2 linked regions of the Homo sapiens genome follow. The protein of the gene in region 2 interacts with the protein of the main gene of each other region in a biochemical or structural test. Each region holds a gene or a part of one and is shown on either strand. Other genes may lie near its edges.

The links.
Region 1: the proteins of TIMP2 (region 2) and ITGA1 form a complex in vitro, tested with the Homo sapiens proteins (one study listed by BioGRID).

What each region holds. Positions count from the first base shown.
Region 1 is NC_000005.10:52,951,670-52,955,588, forward strand, and holds part of ITGA1 (integrin alpha-1 precursor), read left to right. Parts: intron 1-737; coding exon 738-782; 3' UTR 783-3,919. UniProt on the Homo sapiens protein: Integrin alpha-1/beta-1 is a receptor for laminin and collagen. It recognizes the proline-hydroxylated sequence G-F-P-G-E-R in collagen. Involved in anchorage-dependent, negative regulation of EGF-stimulated cell growth.
Region 2 is NC_000017.11:78,876,708-78,880,626, forward strand, and holds part of TIMP2 (metalloproteinase inhibitor 2 precursor), read right to left. Parts: intron 1-3,919. UniProt on the Homo sapiens protein: Complexes with metalloproteinases (such as collagenases) and irreversibly inactivates them by binding to their catalytic zinc cofactor. Known to act on MMP-1, MMP-2, MMP-3, MMP-7, MMP-8, MMP-9, MMP-10, MMP-13, MMP-14, MMP-15, MMP-16 and MMP-19.

The sequences.
Region 1 (3,919 bases), on a different chromosome or scaffold from region 2:
CCTGTCAGATTCCCTACCATCTCTAATGACCTCAACTTATGGTCATCGATCATTTGATGGAAATTTCTCTGCCACATCCCTGAAAAAAAAGATGATGGCAAAGAAGAGACAATGCTAGCTAATTGCAGTTTGTCTCCCAAAATATTTTCCCAGAAGCTTTTAATTAGTTCAATGTGTATACTATATTTTACTAGGGGTCATGGTGTATTTAACCAATGAAAATATTAAAAATGAAACCGCGGCCCGGCGCGATGGCTCACGCCTGTAATCCCAGCACTTTGGGAGGCCGAGGCAGGCAGATCATGAGGTCAAGAGATAGAGACCATCCTGGCCAACATGGTGAAACCCCGTCTCTACTGAAAATACAAAAATTAGCTGGGCATGGTGGTGCATGCCTGTAGTCCCAGCTACCCAGGAGGCTGAGGCAGGAGAATCACTTGAACCCGGGTGGCGGAGGTTGCAGTGAGCGGAGATCACGCCACTGCACTCCAGCCTGGTGACAGAGTGAGACTGTCTCAAAAAAAAAAAAGAAAAGAAAAAAAAAGAAACAGCAATTTAATAAATGTCATTTTTTGACATTGAATATTAATAGGTCAATGAGAAAATATTTCTTAATTATATTAGTTGTGTGCCCAGCATTGCCAATATACTATTAAATTTAATTCTATCCAAAGGATTAATATTTGCTACCTAAATTAAAATAGTTAATTGTGTTATGTTTTGTGTTTTCTCAACAGATTGGATTCTTCAAAAGACCACTGAAAAAGAAAATGGAGAAATGAAATATTTTATGAAAGAAAATAATAACAATTATTCAATAATCTATCCTCAGGTTTGCCTCAAATATGTGACAAGAAATGTATAATTCATGACATAGTCATGTAACTATGTAATCCATCAGGGATTCATTACTTGGAAAATGACAGGTCATGCATTATCCAAAAACAATACCAAAAAGACATATTTTATAAAATGACAAAAAATATTTTACATAATTACTCATTTTTGTTGAGTAAGCAAAATTACAAAGTGTTTTTAAAAAAACCTGTACAAATATGTTTATGTATTAAATCACCATCCAAAATATTTAAGGAATATATAAAAAGATTTTTATGATCATAGAAACATCTATTTTCAAAACAATATAAATTAAGCTTTTCCCCTTGATTCCTGTTGGATATCCATGTTCAGCATGACAGTCAGCACTCGTAAATGCCAAGAAAAGAATTACCTGAAAAAGATCATTTCTCCCTATTCAAATGAGAATATTTTCCCTTGGTAGAATCCATATACAATATGGATTGAAAATTAAGTCACCAAGAATACATTTAGCATCTTTGTGTTGGGTTCTATACCTAAAAATTTTCCCTCCCTGCCCAAGGTGATTGGAAAGTACTGCAATTGAGCTAAAATTTTATCTAGGATGGAAAATCAGGATAGACTCGTTTAAAAACAAGTATATTAAATGGGTTAAATTAAGCTTTTACAGAACATGCTTAATTTTGATATTGAGCTCTAAATGCAAAACTCTTTTATACTGAAAAAACACTTAAAGTAGTTTTGTGTGGCATCACAGTGATTTGTCATGAAAAGCCATATATGGGGGACATGCTAAAATGGCTTCTGAATGAAATACGACAGCAGAGAAAGATGCCACTGAAATGCTGAAATTATCTTTGCTGAGCAGCTTTTGAATGCTAAGGGTTCCAGTATGTGACCCAAAGAAAGAGTTGTCTCAACTCCTTGGTACAGGGTTCATTCAAACCCCCAAGCTGTGAGAGTGTGTTTATTTTTAATTTTTTAAAAGGTATTTAATTTCCAACCACACTTCTTATTTTTTTGAAAAGACAATTTTCCATTTCAGTATTACATTTTACCAAGAAGTCACTGCTTTTTAGGTGTGTTGCATCAATATTTAAATAAAATCCCAGAAATGTATTTTAAAGAATTTCAGGTTTGAAAACTCAAACCAACAGGAAGATATCACACCTTTGTATGTGCTTCTTTGTTCTTGAAGTAGTCATTATGGTTCATTGGAATCTACTGTAGCATAAGCTCCTAGGTTGCTCCATTTCTTAGGAAAATAGCAATGAATGAATGTATAGTAGCTGCATGTGTGAACTACTGCTGTAAAGTTTGCTGACATTTCTGCAACAACATTTCTCCATCTGATTTACCAGAACCTGTAACAAGACCAGAACATGTATTCATCCAGAAACTCCTGGGCTCTGCTTTGTTCAAAGAGGAGCAAATCCACATAGAAATTAAATGTTATAAATTTATTTTTTTAAACTAATTTCCAAAGAATTTAGCTGAAGACTCAGAGTCAGCCTACCTCTTGACTCTCCACATCCGCATCTAAGATCCTGAAGGCCAAAGGAATGCGCCTGTGGGATGCCAAAGCCATCAGTAGCTGGAAGAAAGAATACCTCTTTCTAGAGGTTTGGTGTCCTCTTGCTGGCCTGTCATTATTTGGAAATACGCGCTTTTGGAATTTCCTTCATTTTCGCTATTTCCAGGTTCAGAAATCATACCTACCACTTGTTCTTTCTTTGCCCAGTAAAACTCAGGGTTTCTCTTATTCAGAGTTACCATGTTGCACACCCCCAGTGCTCAGCCTGCCCAGAAGCCCTTCTCTGATCTCAGCAAGATCTTAGTAGTAAAGCTAACGGATCCATTGAAATTCATACTCAGCATCTGTGACTACTAGACAAAGCCCATTTACTGAACCATAAGTGTGCACTTTTAAACTAAATTGTTAACTGAAAGGGAAAAAATAGAAATGAGGGCATTTTGAAGTTTTTAGAAAAGAGAGGAAGAGCTGTTGGCCAGATCAAAGAGATACTTATAAGCCCGGCACAATTTTTAACATAAGTCATTCCTGGCTATTAAGTAAAATATTTCATGAACCAGAAGTCCTGTTTCTCTAATATTATAATTTGTTGAGGTTTGTGTGTGTGTGTGTGTGCATGTGCAGACACATGTACACATATAAATTGAATACAAAAATAGCTCTATAACACCAAAAAACAGAGTTTACAGAAAATAAACACAAAAGCTATATCTGCAAGACAAGTTTGATTCATCTAGTTTCATATAGTTTCATATAGTTTCATTTTTATTAATATTTAGGTTTAACTTATAGTTCTGCAATTATTTAAAAAACAAGTACAGAGCGTTTGATTAAAAAAAGTCAACAAATGTTTCAAAACAGCTTTGTACAAATGTTATAAAACATATTTAATGATTAAGAAATGTACTAGACTCTATCATTTACTTTTAAAACATTTAATTAGAAAAACAGGTGATATTTAAGACTATTTATAAACTTATTGGCCAAATTGCCAAAAAGTTTCTTTTTCTCTAACTTTGGTATTCTAAATAATTGATTATTGCTCCCATTGTAAACTGAACCATGTATGCACTCTCTTTTCTGACCAAACTACAATGGTATATTGGTAAATTATTTAACAACACACTGTCCAGGAGGGAAAAAAAAAACAGTCTCTGATTTGTATCATTTGCCAATTTCCATGGTCCAAATATTCTCTCTCCATTTTCAAACTACCAAAGTGACCCTAATCAGCTTACAAAATTCCTGGAAATGTATCTGCCACCTCTTACCAACCAGTGTGAGCTGACTTCAGCACACCACTGAGACAGATTACACGATAGACAGATAGATAGATAGATAGATAGATAGATAGATAGATAGATAGATAGATATTGATAGAGAACATGTTGTGTCTATATACATATCCAATGACACACAGTATAATCATGTTTTAAATTATGCCAAAAGTACTGATTATATCAAGCCCAGTAAACATAATGCTACACAGCACCCATTCTTTAATTTTGATTTCTAAAATTATAACCTTCCTTTGATATTAATAAAATGTTATGAACTTGCAGGAGA
Region 2 (3,919 bases):
GTAGAGACAGGGTTTTAGCATGTTGGCCAGGCTGGTCTCGAACTCCTGACCTCAAGTGATCCGCCCACTTTGGCCTCCCAAAGTGCTGGGATTACAGGTGTGAGCCACCACACCCAGCCTGAACAGGCAAGTTTCTTCCGCCCCAAATGCCATCTCCCCTCTCTGCCTGGAGAACTTTTCTTCATTCTTCAAGACCCAGCTAAAATAGCCCTTTTCTGTCTTCCTCTGGGAAATCCTGTCCTTCTGCAGCACTTGGTATATTCCCCATCTCTTTTCCATCCTGCTGTCAGTTCCTGCACACCTGTCTGCTCAGGGCCCTGGGAGGTCCTAACAGGTTGAGGCTAGATTCTGACTGCAGAACAGTTGGTGCTCACTAACTCTTTGCCAGATGGAGCTGAGATGACGCTGACAACTTTGGGCTGGTGGCCCAGGTGCAGTTTGTCCTTGGCTCTCTTGCTCCCTGCCTAATCTATATACCTTACGACAATGCTGCACCAAAAATGTTTATGCAAATTAGTCAATGTGCCAGATTAACTTGGTCAAAGTTTGCTCTTCATGTAGCAGAGTCACCAGCTCACAAGCAAACCAGGGCCAGGCACGGTGGCTCACTCCTATAATCCCAGCACTTCGGGAGGCCGAGGCGGGCGGATCACTTGAGGTCAGGAGTTTGAGACCAGCCTAGCCAACATGGTGAAACCCCATCTCTACAAAAAATACAAAAATCCCAGCCACTTGGGAGGCTGAGGCAGGAGAATCGCTTGAACCCAGGAGGTGAAAGTTGCAGTGAGCTGAGATCATGCCACTGCACTCCAGCCTGGGCAACAGAGTGAGACTCCGTCTTTTAAAAAAAGAAAAGAAAGAAAAGGAAAAAAAGCAAGCCAGCAGAATCCAAAGGAATCAACAGTTCCAGTAGGAGCAGCAAGCCGGCCTTTATTACAGTCTGCTGAATTCTGTATGTTATTTTGGAAATTTCTGGAGCTGCTTTTCTTTTCTTTCTTTCTTTTTTTTTTTTTTGAGATGGAGTCTAGCTCTGTCATCCAGGCTGGAGTGCAATGGTGCAATCTTGGCCCACTGCAACCTCCGCCTCCTGGGTTCAAGCAATTCTCCTGCCTCAGCCTCCCAAGTAGCTGGGATTACAGGCACGCGCCACCATGCCCGGCTAATTTTTTGTATTTATTTTAGTAGAGACGGGGTTTCACCATGCTGGCCAGGATGGTCTTGAACTCCTGACCTCGTGATCCGCCTGCCTCGGCCTCCCAACGTGCTGGGATTACAGGCATGAGCTACCGCGCCCGGCCTTGGAGCTGCCTTTCAATGGTCCACTAAGCCGCACAATGCTTAACGCACAATAGGCACTCAACAAGCATGTCACTGGAGTTCAGAAAATAAGCAAAGATTACTTCAAAACGGCCAAAATGTTGCATCCTACCATGGGCATTGAGGTTCACATGCTGTTCTCTTACAAAAACGCCTAAGGCTCCCAGGTGGCAGCTGGGCACTTATTTGAAGGAGGCAGCAAGAGACAGAGATCCTGCATTCACCCCTGGATGGCTGCGTGATCTTTGAGAAGCTCCTTGACTTCACTGAGCCACAGTTGTTCACACCTAAGACAGAGACGATGACAACAGTCTTGACACTTCACAAGGTCGTGGTGACTGTTAGAGGGGCTGGTGTGGAGGCTGCGGTGCCCGGGAACTAATGCGTGTACAGTTCAGGACCACGAGCATCGCATAGACAAGCAGGGCGAATTCTCCCGCTCCCGTGGGTGAGGGATTGGGACGGTGGCATCATGCCACTCAGGTACACAGACCCGGTCCTGGTCAGCAGGCCACAGACTCTCGATTTGATGCAGCTTCCCAGCGTGCTAGCTTTGCCTGGGGGCTGCAGATTACACACTTTCCTTCTTTAAAGTGTCAGAAAAGAGGAGGCTGGTCAAATCAAGGGTCCAGGGTAGCCACGTGGGGTTAGGACTAGAAAGTGAACTGGCGAGGAGGCCGCCAGATGCCTGCAGGGAAGTGGGGGTGAGGGGCAGGGAAGTGGGGGTGAGGGGCCTGGAGGAGCAGAGCCTGAGGGCATCTCCATCTCCCCTGGGCTGCTTTAGTCTGCCCCTGGGGAACAGAATTCAGATTCTTCAGGGTCCCTTTAAATTGGGGGTGGGCACCTCCTCCCCCACTTTGCAAAATGAGAAATTACATGAAAGAAGGAAAATGGGAATCAAGAGAGGCAAAGAAGGACCAGTTCCACGGCAACCTTCCCCAAAGCACCAGCACGCCGCAGACATGAAGGAGAGGGGCCAGCTGACAGCTCTGATCGGTGCACACCAGTTGGCATAGCGGGATCTGCACCGCTGACCTGCTCAGAGCAGCGGGTACCTGTCGGGGGTTGTTGCCCAGAGGTGACAGCAGGTGAAGAGAGGGTACAGGGTGAATCCTGCATACAGCAGGCCTTGCCTGGGAGGAGCATCCAATCCAGGCAAGATGACAGACGATGGATAGGAACACAGAGAAGGAGAGTTTCCAATGCCCAGTGGTGGACAGAGGAGGAGGGAGAGAGAGCTCTCCGGAATACATTTCCATGCCAATGGCAATGGTCCGCACTCTGAGCTCCAGGATGGACCACCAGTTCTGTAGGGGAAAGCAGGCCACTTCAAAAGAGGGAGGGCCTCTCCGAGTCCCAGGCCATGTGAAGAACAGGGCTGGGGAAAGCGAAGAGACATAAGGAATCTGGGAAGAAATGAAAATTGTGGCACAGACACGTTTACTGAACACCTACTGGGTGCTGGGCCTGGTGTTAGGCACTGGGGTGGGTGTCAGCCCATCTCCTGTCCATGCCCCCGAGAGGGGCTGCTCTGCTCCTCTGCCCCTTCCCCAAGGAGCCAGAGGCAGCTGCGAGAGGGGGAGTCTTTATAAAGACTCTCGTTCTAACTGCCCTGAGCCCAGAAACCACGGCCTCTCCCTGGGCGTCTCAGATTTCGTTTTTCCTTCTTTCCCTTCTGCTGTGAACACAACATCTGGGTTTGAGATCAAGGGTGATACACTGGCTGATGAATTCACCGCCAGATGCCGGCTACTGGAATGTACAACCGTCGGCTGAATTCAAAGCACACGCAACTGCAGGGTCCCCACCCCCACCCCTCCAGCCCAGGACACCATATGATGTCACTTCCCCCCTGCAAAAACAATCCCGAGCGCACCCGCCAGAGTGGGGACGGAAAAGAACCGGGTGGGCGGAAAACCAAGGTCGCGGGAGACGATCCAAAGAGGATGGGCTACGGTCAGACTTCGACAGTCACAACCGCCCCTGGAAAACCATCAGAGGCCGGACCGGCTGCTGCTGCTCTCGGAGGGGAGCAGACAGTGAAGGGGGCTTGCTGGAGAACCTGGTGTCACCAGCATGTGCCAGGGCCAAGGGCTGGCCGGAGGGGCGGCACTCTCCACAGACTCCAACCACGCCAGCCCCAGGCAGAGACGCCACGGCTTCTGTGGCACGGTCCTCCCTTGTTCTCTCTCCTCGGTGTCCCCTCTGCTGCCATCAACACGTGGGTCCTGCGTCCTCACGTCCCCTTCATACACCCACCAACATCTTTCCAATCCTCCTGTGTCCACAGAAGTACTATGGAAGTTCCTGCGGAAAATAAGAACAAGCCATGCCCACAATTGGGGGAGGGAGACAGACCCCAAAAGAAAATTGCCTCGAAAGGCCGGGTGCAGTGGCTCACACTTGTAATCCCAGCACTTGGGAGGCCAAGGTGGATGGGTTGCTTGAAGCTAGGAGTTCAAGACCAGCCTGAGCAACATAGCAATACCTCATCTATAAAAAACAAAATACAAAAAACAAAAACAAAAAAAAACAAAAATTAGCTGGGCGTGGTGGCATCTGCCTATAGTCCCAGCTACTCAGGAGAATTGTATGAACTAGA